Homo sapiens: one gene and its partner. The protein of the gene in region 2 purifies or fractionates together with the protein of the main gene of each other region. This does not show direct contact. Each region holds a gene or a part of one and is shown on either strand. Other genes may lie near its edges.

Region 1 (16,285 bases), on a different chromosome or scaffold from region 2:
CCACTCAGCACTGGATATGAGCTCTGGAGAAAGTTGTCCCTGAGCCACAAAGTCCCCAAGGCCACAGCGGGCCTGAAGGGAAGAGCATTATTGTTGTCACAAATGCTGGGAGAGCACCTGGTTCCCTGGCTCGGCTGCTCCTGCAGACCAGCAGGGGGAGAGGGGACTGGACTAGCAGGGGACCGGCGGGAGGGCTGTGGAATTTAGGCTGAGGGGAGGCCACTGAATCTCCCAGGCACCTGCCACCATGGAAATCCATGTTGGGGGAACTGTAAAAGCAGTAGAGGCCGGACGCGCTGGCTCACACCTGTAATCCCAGCATCTGGGGAGGCCGAAGAGGGCGGATCACCTGAGGTCAGGAGTTCGAGACCAGCCTGACCAACATGGTAAAATCCCATCTCTACTAAAAATACAAAAATTAGGCCGGGCACAGTGGTTCATGCCTGTAATCCCAGCACTTTGAGGGGCTGAGGTGGGTGGATCACAAGATCAAGAGATTGAGACCATCCTGGCCAACATGGTAAAACCCCGTCTCTACTAAAAATACAAAAATTAGCTGGGCATGGCAGCACACACCTGTAGTCCCAGCTACTCGGGAGGCTGAGGCAGGAGAATTGCTTGAACCCAGGAGGCAGAGGTTGCAGTAAGCCGAGCTTGCGCCACTGCACTCCAGCCTGGCAACAGAGCAAGACTCCGTCTCAAAAAAAAAAAAGAAAAAAAAAAACTTAGCCAGGTGTGGTGGCACATGCCTGTAAAATGTGCAGGGGAAGAAGGGCAGGTCCCTTTTTCCCCGTTGTTACCGTGACTGGCAAAGGTTGAGCGTCACCCTCTGGAAACCCGTGTCAAGTGACTTTACAACCAGCTGGCAGAACCACCTCACACCACAGCTGCCTGCTCTCCATGCTGACTCAAGGGGTCTTCTCAGAGACGGCCCAGCCCCAGGGATTCTTCCTGCCCAGCTTCCCAAGCTGACCATACCCTTCCAGAACCAGGGCCTTCTGCTGAGGCTGGCCAGCTGCCAAATGGGGCCAGCAGGGAGCCAGATGTCACTTTCCTGTAAAAATCAGGAGCAACTGGAAACAGACAAGACTGCTTAAACGGATATTATCCACAAATCAGAGCGCAGCCTTTTTTTATTGATTGAGCTTAAGACCTGACATGCCAAACTGCTGGCATCCACAGCTGCTCCTGGTGAAGACCCCCATGCATCCCGCCAGCCTGGATTCAGGCACAGGACTTACCCTTAGTGTTTGGTCAGCTCTCCAGAAGGCAGACACTATCTAAAGCAAAAGAAAAAACAGCATTACCCTCATTGCTCCAGGAACTTCCCAGAGAAAACAGGAGTGGCAAGAACACCGATTTTAGAACCCAGAGAACTTTTTCAGTCTTGTTACCCGGGCTGGAGTGCAATGGCGCAATCCCGGCTCACTGCAACCTCTGCTTCCCGGATTCAAGCGATTCTCCTGCCTCAGCCTCCTGAGGTAGTTGGGATTACAGGCATGTGCCACCACGCCCAGCTAATTTGGTATTTTTAGTAGAGATGGGGGTTTCTCCATGTTGGTCAGGCTGGTCTCGAACTCCCGACCTCAGGTGATCCACCCACCTCGGCCTCCCAAAGTGCTGGGATTACAGGTGTGAGCCACCGCACCCGGCCAAGAACTGTTTCTTTGCTTCCACTGAGGGCACCAGGAGGGTACAGAGCTGGAAGCGCCAGCTGTGCTGTCCCACTGCCTGGACTGCACCTCTTGTTACTCTGACAGCCGCTCTGTAATCACTCAAAGTCTGTTTCCTCATCTGTAAAATGGGAATAATAACAATGCCCATCTCACAGCGTACTAGGGAATACCCAATGAGGCAGCACACGCACAGCAGTGGCACCATGCCTGGCACAGAGGACACACTGGGACGTTAACCGACAGGCTAGGTGGGAAGCGCTTAAGTAAAACCCTTTTCTGCCACCCACTACACATGAACAAGAAGTTCTAGAAACAGTTCGTTTTATCTGAAGTGCTTTCTCTTCCTGCCCACTCCGTCCAGCCTCAGGCCCGCTTTCTCTGCATCTCCGCAGAGCTGTCTCTAATCCTTCAGGAGCTCCCTCTGAATACTGGGAGTCTGGTTCTTCTCTCACTCCACAACTTGAAACTAATAAGGAGCTGTCTTACGTGACCTGAGATGTGTACTCTATTTCCTGGCTATTTCCTCAAATCCTTTCCTGCAGAGACCCCTCTCTGCCATAAGTAAGAGCCCACCTCGTGTTTATGCCCATGGGAGCCCACAGTTGGTATTGTGTAATCACTTTTCGGAGTTTTATTGACTGCTTATTTCCGAAAAAGCCACACCTACCCTAGCCACTAGTCAATGAACAGCAAAATGGAAAAACAGGCCAGCAAGCTCAAATCCCTGTTCAGAGAAAACCAGCTGCCTTGACAGATAACGTCAAGGCTGAAATTCAATGTCTGGGGCACTCAAGTCAATAAAATATTTATTGAGCACATGCCTTGCACAAGGAACTGTATGTACACTCAGGCCCTGCCCACAAAGTGCCAAAAAGCAAGTTGTTAGGGGCTGGTTAAAAGAAGCAAAAATGGGATGGCACGTGAGAGGGACTCCAGCAGTGAGCCACCTAGCCTGCCTGGCTGTGTTACTCTGGGCGTTATTTCACCTCTCTGAGTTTCACCTATGAGAGTCCGTCATTTGTAAGAGATGGATCTAATAGGACCTTCGTAATAGGATTGTTGTGATAATCACATTATGTGTATGTAAGGGGCTTAGCAAGGCCGTCACCACCACACAGTAGTTGACTTTTATTATTAATAACAATAAATCATTACTTATCATCATCGTTATGAAAAGAGAGCCCAGTCCAACTGAATAGATTTGGCAAGCCTTAATAAAGTCCTGTGTCTCGAAGAATAATTTAATTTTGACAGGACAAGATAAGAAGCAAGGCCCTGCAGAAAACAAAGTCAACAAGAACAAGAGCAGAGGGGGGACCGTGAGAAGTGAGTTTGGGGTAACAGTGACTAATCTCACTATGGGGGCTGACACAGAAGAGGGTACCTGCGGAGGCAAATGGAAGAAAGAGCCCAACAGGTGGAATCATATTAGAGAGTCTTGAACGCCAAGATGAAGCAAGCTTTTCATTCGGTAAGTAAGAGGAAATGGTTTATTCTTTTGGCCATTTCCCATCTTCCACCGTCAGGCCCGACTCCTTTGGCAAAGTGTCCACAGGTGAGACTAGAAGGCAGCTAAGAGAAAGAGAGGAAGGCACGGTCAGTCAGGCCCAGGTGAGGTTTCAGAGTGAGCAGGCAAAATGCCCTGCTGCTGTGAAGGAGGCCTCTGGGTGAGAAACCTGCCCCAAAGCAGGAACTTTCAGGATACAAGAAACGGGGCCCATTCAGATGGGGGCAGGACGATATTGGGAGGCAGCCAAAGAGAAGGCCATGCTCATCCTCAATGAAAATGTTGACCAGAGGCCGGGTGCAGTGGCTCACGCCTGTAATCCCAGCACTTTGGGAGGCCAAGGCAGGTGATCACCTGAAGTCAGGAGTTCGAGACCAGCCTGCCCAACATAGTGAAACCCCATCTCTACTAAAGATACAAAAATTAGCCAGGCAAAGGGTTGGTGCCTGTAATCCCAGCTACTCAGGAGGCTGAGGCAGGAGAATCACTTGAATCCGGGAGGCAGAGGCTGCAGTGAGCCAAGATGGTGCCACTGTACTGCAGCCTGGGCAACAAAACAAGACTCCGTCTCCAAAAAAAAAAAAACACAGAAAACGTTGACCTGAACGAGGCCTCCAGCCCATGCAGAAGGTGCCAGTGAGAAATGTGGATTGCCAGATTTACTGCCATACTGACCTTGGTGCTGGCCATCCCTGCCACCTCCAAAAGTAACTCCTTTCCGTATTCCCCATCTTGCACCCTTCTCTCCTCACTGGTTCCCAGTTTGACCCCTTTTCAACTAATTCACCCAAAACACTCATTAGGCACCTACTTGTTCCTGGCACTATTAGGTACTGAGAGGACAGAGGGAAGAGGGACACAGGGAACTGTGGCTTGGGATAAGAGTAGTGAATCTGAGGTCCTGCCCTGCCACTGGTCCCAGAGCCCCCATGAGTGGTGGTGGGAGGACAGGTACCTATCACAGTGCCTGGGGCACTGGAAGTGAGACCGGGTGAAAGCAAGGAGCAGGACAAAAAAGGGAAAAGGGCCTGGGGGACCTACTGTGGGCTACCAGGGACAACCTTCTAGGGGAGATCTTGGAGGTGAGGACTGGCACAGGGAACCGAGTCAGCCAGGCTGCAGCGGGCTTCAGTAGAAAGACAGAAGGCGTTATGACACATGAGGGTACATTGGGGTAAACTGAGGAAACTTTGGATGACAGCCTAATTAATTCAAAAAGCAGATACTGAGCAACTGTAGTGAACAAAGCCCCTTCCCTAAGAGCAGGGCACAGCAGGGTGAAGGAGCCATTAGTAAACAAATGACGGCTGCTTTCAGGGAGCTTACCAGAACACCATGGGACACAATCTGCAGCTCAGGCCTGCAGCTGGGCCCTCAGAGCCCTGTCTGCCTTTTGGGCTTTTTTTTTTCTTTTTTTTTGACAGGGAGTTTCATGCTGTCGCCCAGGCTGGAGTGCAGGGGCGTGATCTCAGCTTACTGCAACCTTCAACTCCCAGGTTCAAGCAATTCTCCTGCCTCAGCCTCCTGAGTAGCTGGGATTACAGGTGCCCGCCACCAGGCCTGGCTAGTTTTTGTATTTTTAGCAGAGAAGGGGTTTCACCATGTTGGCCAGGCTGGTCTCGAACTCCTGACCTCAGGTGATCCACCCGCCTCGGCCTCCCAAAGTGCTGGGATTACAGGCATGAGCACCGCGCCCAGCCCCGTCTACCTTTGCATCTAATCTTGCTTCCTCAGTTTGGTTTCCAGTCACTGACTTACCTGCACCTTAGCAAATCCTAGTGCCCTCACCTGGTTACATCTCCTGTAGAGGCCTCTTCCCAGTGACCAATCAAGTTTCTTACACCCAACAGTGAAGCTGTTTCCCCCACATTCTCCTTCCACCTTCCTCAGCCTTCCTCTTCCAGTTCTAATTGCTTGAAACCTCTGTAACTGGCCAGGCATGATGGCTCATGCCTATAATCCCAGCACTTTGGGAGGTCGAGGTGGGCGGATCACCTGAGGTCAGGAGTTCAAGACCAGCCTGGCCAACATGGTGAAACCCCATCTCTACTAAAAATACAAAAAATAGCCAGGTGTGGTGGCATGCGCCTGTAATCCCAGCTACTCAGGATGCTGAGGCAGGAGAATCGCTTGAACTCGGGAGGCGGAGGTTGTGGTGAGCTGAGATCACACCGCTGCACTCCAGCCTGGGCGACAAGAGCGAAACTCCATCTCAAAAAACAAAAACAAAAAAACCTCTTTAACAAAACCTCTCCAGAATAAAACTTTCTAGCTGCTGAAATCCAATCACTGTTTCTCCACTGCAGCGGCATCAAAAAGAGGTCCACAACTCACCTCCTCCACGAAGCCTTCCCAAGCCCATCCCCTTCCAGGCCATTTCTCCTCTCTCTCGCTTTAGTGTGTGGTTTGCTGTGATTTACTGGCCTCTACTGAACTTCCTCTTCCATGTCCTCCTAGGGCCAATACCTCACCCACTAGGCTCTCTACAAACATCTGCAGCAGGCTGCCTTGCTGCTTAGGTTTTGTTTATTTTCTCTCTCCCCCAATGGGTTTGTCAGCAGTTGCAGGACAAGGATTGACCTCATCGCCCACGCTGTCTCTCGGCCCAGTGTAGGGATAGGAACACTGTAGGTGTGCAAAAGAATGTGATTAAGAGTTCAACAGTTAAGGAGAGCCTGCAGGCAGGAAGCTGTAGCTGCAAGTGAGAGAAATGCTGAGCACATCCACCCCCAGCACAAGTGTTTGCATCACATACAGGGAAAGGGTGCCTTGGGGGAGGCCAGCCAGGGCTGATGGTGGCAGTGGGTACGGGAGCAATAGGGAGGCAGATGGCAGGCACTCTGGAGGTTCTGGTTGTCATCAGCAAGTGTTGGTACTTCTCTGAGCCTGTTTTCTCAGCTGGAGAACGGGTAAGGAGCCCAGGCCTACCTCTTCTCACAAAATAAAGACACAATCTGATTTTTTAGAATTTCAGACGAGGCACGCCTGTAATCTCAGCACTTTGGGAAGCCAGGGCAGGCCGCTCGCTTGAGCGTAGGAGTTCGAGACCAGCCTGGGCAACATGACGGAACCTCGTCTCTACCAAAAAATACAAAAATTAGCTAGGCGTGGTGGCGCCCGCCTGTAGTCCCAGCACTGGGGGACTGTGGCAGGAGGGTCGCTTGAGCCCGGGAGGTCGAGACTGCAGTGAGCCGAGATCGCGCCACTGCACTCCAGCCTGGGTGGGTGACAGCAAGACCCTGTCTAAAAAAGAAAAGAAAACAAAAGAATCTCAAAGTTGCCAGGGACCTAGGGACTTGGCTTCCGACTCTGATGCGCTTTGTAAACTACTAAAAGCTGGAGAAATAAGGGGCTGAGCCCAGCCCCACCTCCTGAATGAGCGGCCTTGGGCGAATCACTGCGTCTGGGCGCCTGGAGCTTCCCCGTCTGAAACAAAGTAGAGGATCCTACGGGAGGCGGAGTGCGAGAGCAAGGAACAAGGAAAGCCCTCGCCTTACACGCCGCGGCTTCCTGCAGAGCTGAGCCACATCCAGTACGATGGGGACAACTTGGGCTCCCGATCCTGACAGACTTGGGTTCGAACCCTCAGGGACCTCGCGCGAGGCGCTTTAGTCAGTTTCTCCATCTGCAAAATGGGCCCGAGAGCAAGAATGAGGCAGCCCGCAGGCGGACGCTGCGGAGGGGCGCTCGGGGGCTGCAGCCGGGGGCGGGTCCGGGGGCGGGTCCAGCCGGCCGAGCCCCCGCGCGAGGGGGAGGGGCGCCGTCCGCTGCGTCGCGTCGCGCACCGCGCACAGCCCGTCGCTGTCTCCTCCAGCCGTCACTCGCGGAGCCCGCGCCGCCTTTGCGCGCGCGACCCTTACATAAGCGTCCCTCGCAGCGGTGCCGGCGCACGTCCACCCGCTCCGACCCGCCGCGGGAAGAGGACCGTGCGGAGCGCGGCGGACACTCACCTCCTCGCCGTCGCCAGTCCTCGCCGCCGCCTCTACCGCTGCTGCCTCCACTGACAGAGAACAGCTGCGGTCTCCGTGCAACCGAACTTGCTGCAGTCCCGGCCCCGCCTTACGGACTTCCTATTGGCCCAGACAGCCCAACCCCTCCCGTTATTGGGCAGTGTTCTCCGTCACTCCTCGCCCCTAGGCTCTGGACTCCTCCCTGTGCCCGCCTGTCCGTCACGTTTAAGCCTTGGCGCCCCACGTCAGCCCCGCCCCTCCCGTCCCCGGCGAGCGCCTGGATAAGTGGCGAGGCTGGGAGAGCCCGCCCCTGGCGCACCACCGCCTACTCCCTTGTCTCCGGAGCCTCACGTGGGCCGCCGGACCCTAGCCGACGCCCGCAATAGGCGGAAGTGGCCGGGCTGTGGCTCGCAGTTATTGGCTGTCGGCGGGGGTGGGGACGTTCGATTCATTCACCCGAGTAGCACGTGTCTCCCGAAGCTGCAAGCACAACAGTTCGCACTGGGGCTCAGGCATCCCGGCTAGACGCAGATACGCGCTGGCTAGCGGAGAAGAGGTCGCAGGAAAAGCTAACGTTAGCGAAGGGCAGGAGGAAGGAGAAGGCGCTTGTGCCACACGGGTTACATGACTATGTCCTTTAACAGCTGCGTAGATGATGATGGGGGTCTACAGTACGTCTGTGTGACCTTGGGCAAGCAACTTAACCTCTGAGTCTCGGTTTTGTCATCTGCAGAGCGAAGCTACTCAGGACCTAGGGGGTTTGGAAGCCTTGTTTGAGACACAAGACACTTGACAAGACCCAAGACACTTGTCAAAGAGGAAAGCTTTGACAAGTGGAACAAGTGACTGAGGCATAAGTCTCTGTCATCGAGGCTTATTAATCCAGTTTGAGGGCGTGCTCGGGAAAAACACGAACCACAGACACATCCGTGGTTGTTTTTCCGAAGAGGTTTTCGGGAGGTTTAGTATTTATGCATTTCCTTAAAGGGGGAATGAGGGGAAGGCATGTAGGAAGAAGGGCAAGTAGGCGATTAGGACAATAGTTACATTCCTATGGGACTTTAGCTAATGCCCGGTAAATCTACGTAAGATGAGATGAATGTCTGAAGAGAAAAAGAGAGTAAAGGAAGAGTCAGTTATGCAGATGTCTCTGAGTAGGTAGTTTTGACTTTGTTCTGCACCTGGGAAAATAAGCTTGTAATGACATTCTTATTGTGGAATTTTTAGGAGCTAGACTTAGATTGTAGACCTGAAGCTACAATTGACCTGTCCTTGTTTATGGGAGGCCAGCAAGAATTTACTTGTGAATGATCTGTGGGGGCAGCCCTTCCCAAATGCCTGAGGTTTTTACCTTTCCGTGTGGATATGGCTGATGCCTAATGCTAGTAACAGCTATTCTTTTGGAAGAGGGTGTTGCAGTGACTCAGCTTCAAGGCTTAATCTTCACTTTCGCATGAATTGGGGCGCTGGGGGGGGGTCCCGAGATTTTTACTTTCATTCACCGCTGCGTAAACTGGGGTCTGTGCCAACCAGGGGATAAGGGAGTGACCAAACAAACCAAAATCCTGCCTTCAAAGGAGAGCAGACAGATTAATATATATATATATATATATATTTTTTTTTTTTTTTTTTTGAGACGGAGTCTCGCTCTGTCGCCCAGGCCGGACTGCGGACTGCAGTGGCGCAATCTCGGCTCACTGCAAGCTCCGCTTCCCGGGTTCACGCCATTCTCCTGCCTCAGCCTCCTGAGTAGCTGGGACTACAGGCGCCCGCCACCGCGCCCGGCTAATTTTTTGTATTTTTAGTAGAGACGGGGTTTCACCTTGTTAGCCAGGATGGTCTCGATCTCCTGACCTCATGATCCACCCGCCTCGGCCTCCCAAAGTGCTGGGATTATAGGCGTGAGCCACCGCGCCCGGCCCAGATTAATACATAGTACATCAGATGGTGATAAGGGCAAAGAGAAAAAATAACCTGCTTCCAAAAAGGAGAATCAAAGACTATGAGAACATCTTGCTAACTAGAAATTGTTTATTGAGCCTGGAGAGATCTGACTCTTCTCTCAGACTTCTTGTATAAGTAGTTTCTCACTCCAACTTCCCTGTCATTCCTTCTACCCGTCCTGAAGAACTCCAACCTTGGGTTGGATCCGACACAGCTATTTTAGTAACAGAACAAGGATTAAGATCCCAGTTCACCTTTGGGAGGCTGAGTAGGGAGGAATACTTGAGCCCAGGAATTTGAGACCAGCATTGGCAACACACTAAGACCTCATCTCTGTCTTTTAAAAATTAAAAAATGGGGCCGGGCTCCGTGGCTCACACTTGTAATCCCAGCACTTTGGGAGGCCGAGGCAGCAGATCACAAGGTCAGGAGTTCAAGACCAGCCTGGCCAATATGGTGAAACCTCGTCTCTACTAAAAAAGTACAAAAATTAGCCGGGTGTGGTGGCAGTCACCTGTAGTCCCAGCTACTGGGGAGGCTGAGGCAAGAGAATCGCTTGAACCCGGGAGGCGGAGGTTGCAGTGAGCCGAGATCATGCCACTGCACTCCAGCCTGGGTGACAGAGCGAGACTCCATCTCAAAAAAAAAAAAAAATTAAAAAATGGGCTGGGCACGGTGGCTCACGCCTGTAATCCCAGCACTTTGGGAGGCTGAGGTGGGTGGATCATCTGAAGTCAGGAGTTCAGGACCAGCCTGATAAACATGGTGAAACCCCCTCTCTATTAAAAATACAAAAATTAACTGGGTATGGTGGTGGGCACCTGTAATCCCAGCTACTCGGGAGGCTGAGACAGGAAAATTGGTTGCAGTGAGCTGAGATTGCGCCATTGCACTCCAGCCTGGGCAACAGAGCAAACCTCCATCTCAAAAAATAAAAATTGGCCAGGTGCAGTGGCTCACACCTATAATCCCAGCACTATGGGAGGCCGAGGTGGGTGGATCACTTGAGGCTAGGTGTTCGAGACCAGCTTGGCCAACATGGCGAAACCCTGTCTCTACTAAAAATACAAAATTAGCCAGGCGTGGTGGTGCATGCCTGTAATCCCAGCTACTAGGGAGGCTGTGGCAGGAGAATTGCTTGAACCCAGGAGCCGGAGATTGCAGTGAGCCAAGATTGCACATTGCATTCCAGCCTGGGCAACAAGAGTGAAAAACTCTGTCTCAAAAAAAAAAAGAAAAGAAAGAAAGAAAAAGAAAAAGTACTTCTCAGCGTAGGCTTCTGTGCCACTAGCAACAGAATCTCCTGGGGACAAGGTGGGAAACACAGATTCCTGAGCCCCATCCCATTGCTCTTATGCATATTAACCACCAACTCAGAGGTCTTAGAATCATCAGCAGAATACCTGAGTCACCTTTGCCTCTTCAATCCATCTCTAGGGACTGAGACTGAAACTGACCCAATAGTCCCATAGACTTTTTTTTTTAATAAACATAGAAATGGACCCTTTTGGTCTTAAAGCTTGAAACTTACATTTGTTTTATCTGAGTTCCTTCCTCAGGAAAGGACACTCAGGCCTCTCAAAAAAAAGTATCAGAGAACTGAAACTCACCAGATCAAGGCATCCAGACAACAAGATGCCAGAACCCACTTTCACCCTGCTTGCTTCCTTACTTCTCCCTAGTTCCTGTTTTTTTTTCTTTTTTTTTTTTTCTGAGACGGAGTCTTGCTGTGTTGCCCAGGCTGGAATGCAATGGTGTGATCTCAGCTCACTGCAACCTCTACCTCCCAGGTTCAAGCAGTTCTCCTGCCTCAGCCTCCCGAGTAGCTGGAATTACAGGTGCCCACCACTACACCTGGCTAATTTTTGTATTTTTAGTAGACCATGTTAGTCAGGCTGGTCTCGAACTCCTGACCTCGTGACCCACCCACCTCGGCCTCCCAAAGTGCTGGGATTACAGGCGTGAGCCATCATGCCTGGCCCCTAGTTCTTGTTTTTTTACACATTGTTACATTTCTTCCCTCTGTGTTAACTCTTAATTTTAGTCACTCAGGGAGATGGATTTGAGACTGATCTTCTATCTCCTAGGCTGTAGCACTCAGTTAAAGCCTTCTTCCTTGGCAATAATTGTCTCAGTGATTAGCTTTCTGTGGAGAAAGCAGCAGGACCTAGATGGAGGCCCTGGTGTTTCAGAAACAAGACCCCCTGCACTGCAGTGCTAGTTTTAGAAGCTCTCCAAGTGGTTCTAATGGAGTCAGTATGAAGACCCACAGGGAGGCTAGAGAAATACTATCTAGGCTTCCTGGATGGTAAGACTCTTCCAGGGCCCTTTAAAAACAAAACCAAGGCCGGGCACAGTGGCTCACGCCTGTAATCCCAGCACTTTGAGAGGCTGAGGCAGGTGGATCACCTGAGGTCAGGAGCTCGAGACCAGCCTGGCCAACATGGTGAAACCCCGTCTCTATTAAAAATACAAAAATTAGCCAGGTGTGGTGGCACATGCCTGTAATCCCAGCTACTCGGGAGGCTGAGGCAGGAGAATCACTTGAACCCGGGAGGCAGAGGTTGCAGTGAGCTGAGATCGCACCACTGCACTCCAGCCTGGGCAACAAGAGCGAAACTCGGTCTCAAATAATAAATAAATAAATAAATATAAAAATAAAAACAAAACCAGATTCCTGGACCCACACCCACCCCTGTGGATAATGATTCAGTCAGTTTGGGGTGGGGCCTAGTAATCTTTTCAATGCTTTTTTTTTTTTTTCTTTTAGCAAGCACTCAATTGATTCCTGAGATCTGGGGAGCTTGGGAAACTTAGCTGAGCTCCTAGGAGGATGCAGCAGCAGCTGAAGCCAGACAGAGGGGCTGAGATGTGCTATGGAAGGCTGGCCAAGGTTAAGCTCTGGTGCAGAGAACACAGGCCGCAGGACTCTGTTGGGAGGGAAATGATGTTCAGGGGGCCCTTACAGAGCAGCTGAGGGGCTGCCCTAAGGCTAGGAGTGTAGGCCTGCTTTATTATTTCTTAATAGCTAACACTCTAAAATGTTCTTGGGCTGGGCCGGGCATGGTGGCTCACACCTGTAATCCCAGCACTTTGTAGGGCTGAGGCAGGTGGATCACTTGAAGTTAGGGGTTTGAGACCAGCCTGGCCAACATGGTGAAACCTCGTCTCTACTAAAAAAATACAAAATCAGCTGGGCGTGGTGGCGCACGCCTGTAATCCTAGCTACTTGGGAGGCTGAGGCAGGAGAATTACTTGAACCTGGGAGGCGGAGGTTACAGTGAGCCAAGATCGCACCATTGCACTCCAGCTTAGATGACAAGAGTGAAACTCCATCTCAAAAAAAAAAAAGGAAATTCTTGGGCCGGCTGCAGTGGCTCATGCCTATAACCCTAGCACTTTGGGAGGCTAAAAGTGGTGAGGAGGCTCTTCCTCTTCCTCTGCCCCAGCTTGTGGGCGTCAGCCCTGGTATGGACCTGGCACCATGATAAAGGGATGCAGCCATGGTGAGGTATCTCCCACAGGCTTTAGGGGCATGAGACTTGGGCAAGTGGGCTTTGAAACAGGAGTGGGAGCTGGGTGTGGTGGTGCATGCCTATAATTCCATACTTTGCGGGGGCCAAGGTGGGTGGATCACTTAAGCCCAGGAGTTTGAGACCAGCGTGGGCAATATAGTGAGGCCTCATTTCTTTTCTTTTTTTTTTTTTTTGAGATGGAGTCTCGCTCTGTCACCCAGGCTGGAGTGCAGTGGCACGATCTCGGCTCACTGCAACCTCCACCTCCCAGGTTCATGCGATTCTCCTGCCTCAGCTTCTCGAGTAGCTGAGACTACAGGCGACTGCCACCACGCCCGGCTAATTTTCTTGTATTTTTAGTAGAGATGGGGTTTCACCGTGTTAGGCATGATGGTCTCAATCTCCTGAATGTGAGGCCTCATCTCTATTAAAAATTGAAAAAGAAAGGCCAGGCACGGTGGCTCATGCCTGTAATCCCAGCACTTTGGGAGGCTGAGGTGGGTGGATCACTTGAGGTTAGGAGTTTGAGACCAGCCTGGCCAACATGGTGAAACCCCATCTCTACTAAAAATACAAAAAATTAGCCGGGCGTGGTGGCTGGCGCATGCCTATAATCCCAGCTACTCGGGAGACTGAGGCAGGAAAATCATTGAACCCGGGAGGCGGAGGTTGCAGTGAGCCGGGATCACACCACTGCACTCCAGCCTGGGTAACAGAGTGAGACTCTGTCTCACAAAAAAAAAAAAAAAAAAAATTGAAAAAAAAAAAGTCAGCCAGGCTTGGTGGGGTGTGCCTATAGTCCCAACTACTGGGGAGGCTAGGTGAGAAGATCGCTTGAGCCTGGGAGGTGGAGGTTTCAATGAACCGAGATTGTGCCACTGCACTGCACTCCAGCCTGGGCAACAGAGCAAGATCCAGTCTTCAGACAAAACAAAACAAAACAAAAACAGGAAGTTGCAGCTAAGAGGCTGGGCTGTGGATAGGTAAAAGGACTGGCTTTACTGTTACCCCAGTAACTCTGGGGGGCACGTTGGGAGTAGCTAACCCATCCCTTTGCTTCTTAGGGACATGTTCAGAGGCTCAGAGACAGAAGAGGGCAGATCTCATAATTGACAGAGACTTCTGCAGTCTGAGAACACAGGGGAGACACTGGCCCTTGGTCCACCTCGGCCGGTGGAAGGTCTGACCACCTTGTGGCGATCCCATGATGGGTTCCACGAGCCCAGTGGAATTGTCCAGACTGAACGGCCAAAGTAGGAGGAGGCTGAAAAGACAGGGCGGTTTCTAGGGGTGAGAAGCCATGGGGTTAAAGGAGCCTGGGAACACAGTGCAGGGAAACATTGGAATTTAGGCTCCCTCCAAGCCAAAAATGGTACTTGAGTGGCCACAGGCAAGGGCACAGGGCCACCTCACACACTTGCAGTTTCCACACCACAAACACTCCTGGCCAATGCCTTGCTTGCTCAGTCCATGCTGGCGGGAGAAATCTTTCTTTTGTCATCTCTGGAGTGGGGATTGGAGACATCTGGGTTGTCCTTATGAGATCCTCAGGGTAAAGCCAGGCTTCTGGATTCTAAACACAGAGGGGTGGGCTGTTTCCAGTCTCATAGTAACAGCTGTGTTTTGAGGGATCTGTAGCTTTGTTTTTTGTTTTTTTGTTTGTTGGTTGGTTTTTGTTTTGTTTTGTTTTGTTTGAGACAGGGTTTCACTCTGTCACCCAGGCTGCAGTGCAATGGTGTGATCTCGGCTCACTGCAACCTCCGCCTCCTGGGTTTAAGTGATTCTCCTGCCTCAGCCTCCTGAGTAGCTGGAATTACAGGCAGCTGCCACCACATCCGGCTAATTTTTTTTTTTTTTTTTTGAGACAGAGTCTCGCTCTGTTGCCAGGCTGCTGGAGTGCAGTGGTGCAATCTTGGCTCCCCGCAATCTCCACCTCCTGGGTTCAAGCGATTCTCCTGCCTCAGCCTCCCAAGTAGCTGGGACTACAGGCATGTGCCACCACGCCCAAGTAATTTTTGTATTTTTAGTAGGGACAGGGCTTCACCATGTTGGCCAGGCTGGTCTTGAACCCCTGACCTCAGGTGATCCACCCGCCTCAGCCTCCCAAAGTGCTGGGATTACAGACGTGAGCCACTGTGCCCAGCCAGGATCTGTAGCTTTGTCTGGGAGCTCCCATCCATCTGGATGTCTCCAACCTTCTTGTTCCTAACTGCCCTGTCCTTGCCACCATGCTGTCTGAACTTGCTGGTATGCTGTCCTCCCTACACCCCAATGGTATGAGGTATCATCATTCCTCTATCCCCATCGTGCCTTCCTGCCTGTGCTTGGGCTGTTTTCCTTGCATGGGATTCCTTTTCTCAATAGATTCACCTGATAAACTCTCTTCCTGTCATATCTCTCTCTCTCTCTCTCAAGACTTAACCCAGCCATTGTCTCCTTCATGAAGCTCTCCAAGGCCACTCTCATGGTGTAAGGGGCCCTCTTAGGACTCCCATAACACCCTGGGCATTATTTCTAGCCCAGCACCACACTGCTTTGAAATGGGGTGCTTTGAGGTCTGTCCCCCAAAACGAGTCTGGGAAAGTAGCTCATTTTTCATAGTGCTGCAGAAATGGCTCAATATCCTCCCACCACCTCATCTTCCTTCCCGGCCCAGGGACACTGTCAGAGCCTCAGAAATTCCTCAGAATTTGCTCCTCTCGGTCCATGCCCCCAATTTGACCTGTTCCAGGTTATCATCTCTTTAACTTTTCCCTCCCCCATAAACATGGCGTCCACTGGACTCTGTGGACTCTGCTTGGTCTCTGGGGCACTCCTATTCGCTGACTATTAAACATTTACTATGTGCTAAACTCAACTCTTGTAGAGGTGTGAGGAGGGAATAAGGGACAGAAGATAAACCCAAGAACTATTTTTTTTTTTTTTTTGAAACAGAGTCTTGCTCTGTCACCCAGGCTAGAGTGCAGTGGCATGATCTCGGCTCACTGCAACCTCTGCCTCCTGGGTTCAAATGCTTCTCTGCCTCAGCCTCCCAAGTGGCTGGAATTACAGGCACCCGCCACCATGCCCAGCTAATTTTTTATTTTTAGTAGAAACGGGGTTTCACCATCTTGGCCAGGCTGGTCTCAAACTCTTGACCTCATGATTTGCCCCCCACACCGCCCACCTCCCAAAGTGCTGGGATTACAGGCGTGAGCCACTATGCCTGGCCAATTTTTAAAATTTCTATAGAAATGGGGACTCCCTTTGTTGCCTAGGCTGGTCTCAAACTCCTGCCCTCAAGTGATCCTCCCCTGCCTCGGCCTCCCAAAGTGCTGGGATTACAGGTGTGAGCCACTGCACTTGGCCCACAAACAATTTCAAATTAAATAAATGTATATCTGCACAGTCACTCATCTTACTTCTGGTGAGCATTATTTTTTTCATTTTTTTATTTATTTAAAAAACTTTTTCTAGACAGAGTCTCAGTCTGTTGCCCAGGCTGGAGTACAGTGTCACGACCTCTGCTCACTGCAACCTCCACCTCCCAGGTTCAAGCAATTGCTGTGCTTCAGCCTCCCGAGTAGCTGGGATTACAGGTGTGTGCCCCATACCCGCTGATTTTTGTATTATTAGTAGAGTTGGGGTTTCACCATGTTGGCCAGGCTGGTCTTGAACTCCTGACCTCAGGTGATCCACCCACCTCACACTCCC
Region 2 (10,743 bases):
CTTCAGTAATTTTTATTTTTTTGAGATGGACTCTCTGTCATCCAGACTGGAGTGCAGAGGTGCAATCTTGGCTCACTGTAACCTCTGCCTTCCGGGTTCAAGTGATTCTCCTGCCTCAGCCTCCCGAGTGGCTGGGACTACAGGCATGTGGGGTTTCTCTACTAAAGAAACTAGGCTGGTTGGCCAGGCTGGTCTCAAACTCCTGACCTCAAGAGATCTGCCCACTTCAGCCTCCCAAAGTGCTAGGATTACAAGCGTGAGCCACCGCACCCAGCCAAGGCCTTCAATAATTTTTAAGAGTCGAGAAATTCTTGGTACTGCTTTTGCAACTTCCTGTGTCTATAATTATTTTGAAAAAAATCCTTTTAAAAAATGAAATAAAAAGGCATAGAAAAGAAAGCAATTGGGACTAAGGATATATAAAAAACATTAGGATAAATGTGTTTTTGTGTTTGTTTGGTTGGTTGGTTGGTTTTTTTTACAGAGTTTTGCTGTTGTTGCCCAGGATGGAGTGCAATGGTGTGATTTCAGCTTACTGCAACCTCCGCCTCCTGGGTTCAAGCGACTCTCCTGCCTCAGCCTCCCGAGCATCTGGGATTACAGGCACCCACCATCGCGCCCAGCTAATTTTTGTATTTTTAGTAGAGACAGGGTTTCACCATGTTGGCCAGGCTGGTCTTGAACTCCTGACCTCAGGTGATCTGCCTGCCTCAGCCTGCCAAAGTGCTGGGATTACAGGCGTGAGCCACTGTGCCTGGCCCATCCTAATGTTATATGCAAGAAAATAAACATTAAAAACGCCACGTAAATTAGAGTGTAGAGGATTCCCAAGACCACAAGTTTTGAGAACTGCTCATCTAGAATAAAGGACAAAAGCTGAAGCCGTGCACAAAGCCTGCTCCTGCGCTGCTGAAAGCGCACTCGAATCTTCAACACTCAGGGCTCTTTCTCCCCTTCCTGGACTACTGCTCAGACAACCCCTCTGCTCTCCAGCACTCGGGAGGCACAGAACCAAGGAGGGACATTCTAGTTCCAGGCCTGTGGCCAGTAGGTGACTTGGGACTGGGGCATCCACTCCCTCCCGTGTTCATTTTAACATGCTAATTACCCTGGCAACCCTGCAGAAGCACCCCACAGAGGGGATCAGCTCTGACCCTGCAGGTGGGCTGGTGGCCTTGCACATCATCCCTGCTATGTCCCCTGCTCACTCTCCCAAATGAAGGGGCACAAGTGGCAAGGGCTTCTCCATGGGGAGTGAGCACATGTGAGCAGGGGTCCTGATGACACTGTTCATCATAAATGCCCTGTATGGGACAGGGGTCTGCCTGCCACATGCCTAGATTCACAATCAAGGCACCAGACTCAATTGGAGTTCTCTGATTCTGTTGAATGAATGGAAGAATGGGTAGACAGAGAGATAAAAGAGGGAAGGACAGGTAGGGGGATGATGGACAGAAGGATGGATGATGGATGACAGATGGATGGATGGATGAATGGATGGATAGAAAAACGGTGAATGGATGAAGGATGGATGGATGGATGGGGGATGGATAGATGAATGGCTGGCTGTCTGGATGAATGGATGGATAGACAGTGGAGGGATTAATGACAGATGGATATGTGGATGGATGGATGGATAATGAAGGGATGGATGGGTGAATGGATAATGGGATGGATGGATAGATGATGGATGGATGAATGGATGGATGAATAGACGGATGGATGATGGATGGATGCATGGGTAGATGATGGATGGATGAATGGATGATGCATGGAAGGATGAAGAATGATGGATGGATGGATGGATGATGGATGAATAAATGGATGATGGATGGATAGACGGATGATGGCTGGATGAATGGATGATGGGTGAATGGATGGATGGATGGATGATGGATGAATGGATGGATGATGGATGGATGGATGATGGGTGAATGGATGGATGGATGATGGATGAATGGACGGAGGATGGATGGATAGATGGATAGATGGATGATGGATGGATGGATGAATGGATGGATGGATAATGGATGGGTGGATGAGTGGATGGGTGATGGATGGATGGGTGGATGGATGATGGATGAATGGATGAATGGATGGATGGATGGATGATGGGTGAATGGATGGGTGGGTGATGGATGGATGGATGGATGGATGATGGGTGAATGGATGGGTGGGTGATGGATGGATGGATGGCTGAATGGATGGATGGATGGATCGATGGATAGCTAATGGAGGGATGAATGATGGATGGATATGTGGACGAGTAGATAAACAGAGATAAAAGAGGGTGAGTGGGTGCATAGATGGACAGAGAGATAAAAGAGAAGGGAAGGTATGTGGGTGGGGAAGAGACACTCCACCTGGATGGGAAGGTGGGTGGGTGGAAGAGGGCGTGGGGGAGGCAGAAAAACAAGAGGGTTCACACACCTGAGAGCAGGATGATCTCATACTCTTAGAAGCAAGAAGACACACTGGAAGGGATGGGATCCCTGGGGCAGGAGCATCCACCACTGCCCTCCACATCACCGCCCCACTCCCAGCCCAAATCCCTGCCTCCCGCCTGGTACCTTTTTGGCCCCAAGCTTCAGTGCCTTCTTCCTGGCTTCCTCGAAGTCTTCCTTCTGGCCAATGTTGGCCTGAGAAGCAGAAGCGGAGAGGCTCCGTCAGCCCCTGGGGGGAGCCCTGAGTTCACACCATCCGCATGCAGCAGCCTCCCACCCCCTGCTACAGAGACAGCTTCCATTCCATGGCCAAGTCACAGTAAGAAGGAAAAAGGACAAAGCCCAAGGCCTGGAGAGGTGAGATTCTTCCAGGAGGTGAGATTGGGAGCTGGATTGTAGCGTGGTGATGGCTGGTGGCTTCCATGGGTTGGAGCATTGGCTGAGCCTGGCCCTGGCCACACAGGCTGCTGGGAGACAACCATCTGCTGTCATTGCTGGAAGGTCTAGGGTTCTCCTGAAACTCATCTGTCTTTTCCAGAAAACTCTTTCTCAGCCAGTGCAAAGATTAGCTTGTCAGGGCCTTCCTAGCCTCCAGCTCTCCTCCCTAGTCAAAGGCCATGCCTTGGCCATCCTGAGGCAGCTGAGAGGCGGGAGGCAGAGAAGCCCGTGCTCAGGAACTTCCAGCTCCGTCCCTGTGGCCAGTGCCCTGACCTCGGGGTCTGACAGCCCCTGTCTAGACACTGCCATGTTTCCTGCTGCCTGGACTCTGGCCTGCTGCCCAGATCCTGGCCTCAGCCCTCACTCCCTTCATTCGGCTCACCAGACCCTGGAATCTTGCCAAAGCCCAGCTGCAGGTGCTTATCTGAATCACATTCAGCTTTTAAATCCCCCAGGTGGTAGCCCAGGGGTCTATACGCCCAGCTCCAGCTCTGATTGCCCCGCTGTGCTACCTACAGTGAGATGGATACACCCTGGGCTCTTTGCAGCCCCTCAAAGCTGTGCTCTCACCCACCAGGTGACTGTGAGCAAAGTATTTCTTCCCCTGGGCCTCACTTTCCCCAACCTGAATGACAAGGGCATTGGGCGCAGTTAGACATGCCAATATGCCGGCAAACAAGCCACTTTTGGCAAGAGCTAAGTTTTGTCTGTCCAGAGACCCAGGCTCACTTCCTCTGGAAACAGAACCTTCTTTCCTGGGTGGACCCCATTCCACAGGGATGGAGAGGAAGAAATCCCGCCCACTGAAGGAGTAGGCTCATGGCCCAAGCCTCGCACCCCATGATGCAGCCATAGGGACTAATGCGTGGTGGGTCCCCATGGGCCCTACTGGGGGTAAGCCCTCCTTTTTGGGAAAGGTGGGCTATGAGGGTGACCATGAGCCTTGCCTGCCCTGTGGAGAGGCCAAGAATGAAGCCAAGTAGAGTTGGAGATAGATCTTAGAAGCACCTGGATCCAGCCCTGCCTGAAGCCATCCTACCCCTGGAGTTCTCAGTTGTGTGAGCCAAGAATTGTCTTTTCCCTTTCCTTTTTGCGTAAGTTGGTTTGAGTTCAGTTTCTAAAATTTGCACCTAAGAGTCCTGAACAGCACAGCCACACAGAGAAGGACTCAGAGCTGTGGCCAGGTTCAGTCGAAGAGGAGCTAGTTTGAGAGGGATGACTCCTATGGGCCCTGGATGAGGAAGTGGCTTCACACATAACCCATCACCTGTGACCTATTTCCCATCCCAGAACCAGGTGATCCCCCAGGGTCCTTCCAGCTCAGGATTCCACAATCTTTGCTGAATTACTGCAGGCTGACAGCATACTCTGGAGATGGGAAGACTGTGTGCCTTCCCAGGGCTGGCAGCAGGTCCCAGCCCATGCCTCTCTGCAAGCAGGCTAAGCCAGCAGCACTGCCAAGTTCACTTCTGTGCCCTCCCCGCGCCTCCATCACCTGGCTCTGGAAGGCATCTCAAGGATGGCCAATTTGCAGATGGAGAAAGTGAGGCAGTACAACGAGAAGCTATTTTCCTAGTTCCAGTTCAAGACAGGCTTCGAGAGAAGAGGCCAGGCTTGAATGAGTGACGGTGAGCAGACAGGCTGACAACCCAGACAGAGGCTGGCAGGGGGCAGACAGGACAGGTTGCAGGACACGCAGGAAGACAGACACCCAGGTCGCTCCCTCACCAGATAGGCAATGACGTCATAGCCTTGTTCCTTCAGCCACACGAGGATGCACGAGGTGTCCAGGCCGCCACTGTAGGCCAGAACCACGGAGCCTTTGCTGGACATAGCGTCTGGCGGGAGTCGAGGAACAACCTGAGTGACCCTGAGACAGCCAGTGCCCCCCGCCAGCCCCTGCAGACAGCCCAGCCCCGACCTTGGCCTTGGACAGCCTTGTCTCCTGGGCAAGCTGCCACTGAAGGTCGGGAACAGGATGTTCACCTTCAGTGCCTGCCACCCCCGGGAACCCTGACCTCGCACACTCTGCACACAGCCCCACAGACCACACTGGGGCCTGGGAATGCTGACTGCAGTCCTAGGCTGGTCGGGGAGAGGCATCTCTTGGACCTGATCCTCCAGCATCGAGGGAAGGCGGCTGAGGCTGAGCAGTTTGGCCCAAGGCCAGGATGTGAGGAATGCACGCAGGCAGGAGATGTGGGAGGGGCCTTGGCTCTGAGCCTCTGGCAGCTGACACATCCCCCATCAGAACTGCTCCTTGCCAAGCACCAGGCAGGGCCCTGGGAGCCTCAGCGGGATCTCCCTGTGCCCCTGAGCCCCCACTACAACCTCATGAAGTAGGAGTTGTCATTCCTATTGGGGAGGCAGCCAGCAGGGCTCAGAGAGGTCAGTGGCAGGCTCAAGGTCACAGAGGGCACAAGAATCTGTGCTTCCCCAGCACGCAGTGCCGCCGCCCACCTGCAGGTGGAGAAGGATGCTGTGGGGCAGGGGCCCAGCCCCAGTCCCTCTCCTACCTGCAACCCCATGGAACCTTCACTGGCTGGAATTTTAGACATCGTGTCTCCAAATGTGAGCGCCTCTGAATTCAACTCTGCCAATGCCCAGTTTGGAGGGGCTCAGAGACCAACTTCCCCCAGTGTGGAGGTAGAGAAACTGAGGCCCAGGGAGGGAAGGCGATAGACAGGCAGAGGCCTAAGACCTCTGCAACCAGCGGCCCTTCCCGGGGGGACAGATGGGCACGAGGGCTCTCTGCAGCCAGGCCCTCTGCAGCCGGGAAGTGCCTGCGGTCTCCCATCCTGCCCCACCCTCCGTCACAATGAAGCCTCCCGAAGGCGCCAAGGCCTCCTGTCTCCTGATCTTTGCAGCCATGCTTCTTCCCCGAGGGCTCTCCCTGAATCCTGGGCTGCCCTTGGGCTCGCCCTGCACCCCCCTCCCCCACATGCCTCCTGTGGCCCTGGGCTTGGGCGTCTTCACTGTGTCCAATTTGCTGAACAGGAAACCAGGGTTAGGGAGACGAGGTCACCTGCCCAGGGTCATCGGATCAACAAGCAGCAGGGGCAGATGTGGGCCCAGGCCTCCTGGTTCCAGCCTCCGTGGACACCTGGCCCCAGCATCCCGCATTTCCCAAATGTACAGGGCATGTTTGTTCTGCCTGGGAACGTTTCCACTGGAGTCTGACCAACGTCACAAGGTCAGAGTCACCCAGGGTCTTTATTAGACACTACTGGGGAAGTGGAGCCCAGAAGGGTCACCCGGCCATCACCATTGCAGTGATGCAGGCATCGCTATCCTGAGCACTCTCTGTGTGCCTGGAAGCTCGGGGAGAGGAAGTGCCTTTCCCAGGCCTCCCGTCCTCTGCTGCAGAGCCTGGCCGTGTAGCCAGGTGGACTTTGGAGCTCCGTCACATGAGAATTCAGTCCCGTGCATGCTGCACGGTCCCACCTGCCAGTCAGCCGGGGCTCACAGGCCTGTGCTGCCCTTTGGACTTAGAAGGGGAAACACCTCATGGACCATGCAGCTGGGGCAGAGAAGATGGTTCTGGTCGGTGCCCACAACGTCCCTACTGGGCATTCAACCCCCTGCCCCTGAGTTGCTGGTGACTCAGCCAGCCCTAACCCTGGAGCCAGCAGGTGGTATCCATGGCAACTGCAGCCAGGCAATTGGCCATGCAGGATGGAGGGAAGGAGGGAGGAAGGCAGGCAGGGAGGACTTAAGGTGGGCAGTACCTGGGATTGGAGGCGTGAGTTCCCGGCGTCTGGAATCTGTTTTCACAGTGCAGTGAACCACTCTGCAAAAGCAGAGCTACTCAGCTGCCTGCAGGTAGCCTGGGCCATCCCAGAGGCCCTAAACCTTACTTTCCAGCCGCCCAATCTCCTGTGAGCAGCCTCACTGAGCAGAGGAGGTCCAGGAGCCCCAGAGCCACCTGTCCTGCCTCCTGCCTCCTGCCCCCTGCTCCAGAAGGCATTCAGGAAATATGTGGAAGCCTACCCCTGTTTGCGTGTGATGGCGCGGGTGGTGTGGTTGGGTTGCGGGAAATTCTGTTGTATGTTTTAAAACAGCTCTATTGAGGTCTACTTGACATATCATAAATTGCATTTTTTAAATATCAGATGGGTAATGTGCCAACATCATAACAAAGTTTGAGGGTGGCACCTCACACACACACGAGAATACCCAATCAGCACATTCATCAACTACAAAAATAATCGCATATTTTTTTGTGTCCAATTTAGCAAGTTTCGGCGTGCGGATGCGCCCGTGACATCAACACCACAATCAAGGGAATAGACATGTCCGTCTTAGGCTAAGCCCTTCCATCTGGGGTTCTCTTCATTTTAGAGTCAGGAAAACTGAGGCTTGGGCTGAGGAACTTGCCCTGCATCTCGTTTGACTGGTAGGCAGCAGAGCCAGGACTCCAACTCAGATCAGCTCGGCTCCTTAACCCCCTGCTCATAGGTACAAGACCACCACTGGAGACTCAAGGAAGGGAAGTCCTGGGCAAGTGTGATCTGATGATGCTGGCCCAAGATTCACCCAGCTCTGAGAGTCACCCCTGCTCCTGCCTCCTCCCAGAGGCACCTGGAGCCAAGAGAGGCAGCTCCACAGAAACACGGAGGGGCAGCTCCACAGAAACAGCTGGATCACCTGCATCGCCTCAGTGACCCGCCATGCCTCCTGCCCATCAGAGCTGTATCCTTTTTTTTTTTTTTTTTTTTTCAGACAGGGTCTCATTCTGTCACCTAGGCTGGAGTGCAGTGATGCAATCTCAGCTCACCACAGCCTCCACCTCTTGGGCTCAAGGGATCCTCCCATCCCAGCTCAGTGCCACCACCCCCAAGTAGCTGGGACTACAGGCACATGCCACCACACCTGCCTAATTTTTGTATTTTTTGTAGAGATGGGGTTTCACTACATTGCCCAGGCTGGACTCGAACTCCTGGACTTAAGCGATCTGCCTGCCTCAGCCTCTCAAAGTGCTGGGATTCCAGGCATGGGCCACTACATCCGGCCATCATGCTGTATTCTAACTGCCCTCTCCCCCACTATGAGCTCCATGGAAACAGGGACCATCTCCCAGATGCCTGTGGCAGGCACTTAGAACAATGCTACTAGTTCCACTCTCTGGAGGTCAGCTCCTCACCGCAAAAAGAGGGCTGGGGTGCCCTGAAGCTGTGGAGTCCTACACATGCTCTCATGGCCGAGCACAGTGGTTCATGCCTGTAATCCCAGCACTTTGGACGGCCGAGGTGGGTGGATCACTTGAGGTCAGGAGTTCCAGACCAGCCTGGCCAACGTGGCAAAACCCCGTCTCTACTAAAAATACAAAAATTAGCTGAGTGTGGCGGCACACACCTGTAGTCCCAGCTACTTGGGAGGCTGAGGCACGAGAATCGCTTGAACCTGGGAGGTAAAGGTTGCAGTGAGCCAAGATCGTGCCACCACACTCCAGCCTGGGTGACAGAGTGAAACTCTGTCTTAAATAAACCAAAAGAAACCAGTGAGCCCCTCCTGCCTGCCAGGTTGTAGCTGGGCAGGTGTGGGCTCTGAGGCCTTCAGCCTCTGGGGCTGGGCAGTGTGAAGCAATGCATGGACCTGGCGTGTGTACCTGAGACAGTGTGTGTGTGTGTGTGTGTGTGCGCGCGCACACACCTGTGTGCACCCAGGGGTGCGTACCTGAGAGTACACAATGTGTGTGCATGCATGTGTGTGATGTGTTTGGGCTTGCACATGTGTGCCTGTGTGCATGCACACGTGTGTGGGTGTTGGGGCCAGTGTATGCATGCAGAGAAATGAGCTGGGCAGATGGGCTTGGGAAAATGATGCAATCAGACAGCAGCGTTGCTCCTGCCCTCCCAGCAGCGGGTGGGGCACCCCCCTCCCTCAGCCTCCGCAGGTCCCTAAGCTGCATTTGCAGCCCGAGGCAAAAACTAAATGAAACTGAGGGTTTGATGTCGGGGGAGGAAGTGACAGGGAGAGAAGGAACCACAGCTGCAATCCAGTGAGCGCTCACTCCAGGCACAGGACAGAGGTCAAGTCCACCAGACATGGGTTTGAGTGGCTTCAGCTCTCTAGCATAACTGCTCAGCTGCAAAATAGGGGTGCAAACAGCCTGCTCCCCACAGGGCGACTGTAAGGATTGGGTGAGATGCTGGGGGAAGGAGCCCAGAGCTGGGCACCAAGCATGTATGTGCCCACTAAGCTCTGTGCACCGCTGCTATGGCTGACCTCAGCCAAGTTCCTGGCTTGCTAAGCCTCAATTTCCTCATCTGTACAACCTGACAGCCCTCTGGGTTCTGACCCTCCCAGACATTGGGCTTTCTTCCTGGGAGCTGCGCCTGGCAGGCAGATCCTGGCTGAATTCAGCCTCCCCTAGTCCCAGCTCCACCCCCACCACATCCCCCAGAAAGGGCCACGGCAGGTTTCTCCAGCTCCCTGGCAAATGCCCACTGCCCTCCAGCCCTCCTTCCCCGGAAGAGACACCTGGGAGGAGGGAAGGTGGCCTCGCGTCAAGGTACCAGAGCCACCTGGCTTTCATTGGGATGGCATTCTCTGTGGCCCCAGCCACAGCCATCTGTCCAGCTTCCAGCAAACAGGCCAGCCTGGGCGCTCACTTGACACTAAGGAAAACTCGTGCTACTTGAAAACGTCAGAGCTGGAATGACAACAAGAGCGGCTACTATGTTCACAGTCACAGGTGCATCCTCTCAAGGTGGAGACTGCCATTACCACCTATTTACAAAGGAGGAGGCAGAGGCTAAGCGGCCAGCCGAGGTCACAAGCTAGCGGCTTCAAACCCAGCCTGACTGCAGGCCACTTGCTCTTCCCTGCACTAGGCCTTCCACTCCCTGGCTCCTAGGAGACCTCAGATCTCCCCTTCACTCTACACACCTTCCAGAAAACCAGCCCCCCAGTGAGTCATGGCCAACCTGCCCACTATTTCTCTGGAGAGCCTGTGTGCTATAGCTCAGGCCTACTGCCCCGTGGAAGATTCCCCTGCAACCCCTCGCTGACATTCTAACTCAGCTGAGCTCGGTTTGTCTTTGGTGATGGACGAAGGGCACATTCATTCATTCGTTCCACTCATATCAAAGTGCCTATGGGTGCCTGGTCGACCCCAAGTCTGGGGAGGGAGCCACGCCCTGGAAGATCAACTTTGCCCAAAGCTACATCAGAAATCAGAGCCTTAGACTCTGAATTCCAGCGAAGTTACCTCTTTCCACATGGGTGCCTGGTGCCCACAGGCAAGCCACTGACTTCAGGGACTGTGTAGTCAGTGCTCAGATGAGGCATCTGGTTGACCTGGCTGGCCTCCCAGCAGGCCAAAGATGAGATGGGCCCGGGTTGGGAGGGGGAAGCGCTTGTGCAGCAGGCTGTTTTGGGCCTGGCTCCACCCCAAGGCTCCTGCGGCCCTGGGCCTGCTTCCCAAGCACTCAGGAATGGAGACTGTGCTGAGAGTGGGGCCTCCCCTTCCCTCTCACGACGTGTCTGCCCCCGCACCGGCCAGGCGCTCAGCAGGCAGGAGTCACTATTCATTCACTTGATCCACCCCCACAGAGCAGAACCAGAATTACTTCTCAGCATGGTGCACAGATGGCCCCGCCAGGACAGGGTCCCGCCCCCACCCCCAAACTTCCCCGCCCTAGGCCTTGGGCCTAAGGGGTCTGGGAGGGAGAGGGAGTTTGGAATGGAGACTCCTCCAGTTCCTGCTCCTAGCCAAGCTTCCCAGTCCGTGTGGCTGCTTCTCCCTCCCTCTCATCAGAACCTAACCCCAGGCACAGTTATTGTGCAATTGGACCCAGGCCCAGCACCCAACAGTCTACAGAGCCCTTAGCAGCCGCACAGTATCTGCAAATGTTTC

The links.
Region 1: the proteins of ASS1 (region 2) and PC purify together in Homo sapiens (affinity purification with mass spectrometry; 2 studies listed by BioGRID and IntAct, with this or other methods). This does not show direct contact.

What each region holds. Positions count from the first base shown.
Region 1 is NC_000011.10:66,951,189-66,967,473, forward strand, and holds the start of PC (pyruvate carboxylase, mitochondrial precursor), read right to left. Parts: upstream 7,196-16,285; 5' UTR 7,134-7,195; intron 6,809-7,133; exon of another isoform or gene 6,552-6,808; intron 3,249-6,551; 5' UTR 3,061-3,248; intron 1,281-3,060; 5' UTR 1,242-1,280; intron 1-1,241. UniProt on the Homo sapiens protein: Pyruvate carboxylase catalyzes a 2-step reaction, involving the ATP-dependent carboxylation of the covalently attached biotin in the first step and the transfer of the carboxyl group to pyruvate in the second.
Region 2 is NC_000009.12:130,446,201-130,456,943, reverse strand, and holds part of ASS1 (argininosuccinate synthase), read right to left. Parts: intron 7,089-10,743; exon of another isoform or gene 6,989-7,088; intron 6,673-6,988; exon of another isoform or gene 6,611-6,672; intron 4,721-6,610; 5' UTR 4,716-4,720; coding exon 4,611-4,715; intron 2,640-4,610; coding exon 2,571-2,639; intron 1-2,570. UniProt on the Homo sapiens protein: One of the enzymes of the urea cycle, the metabolic pathway transforming neurotoxic amonia produced by protein catabolism into inocuous urea in the liver of ureotelic animals.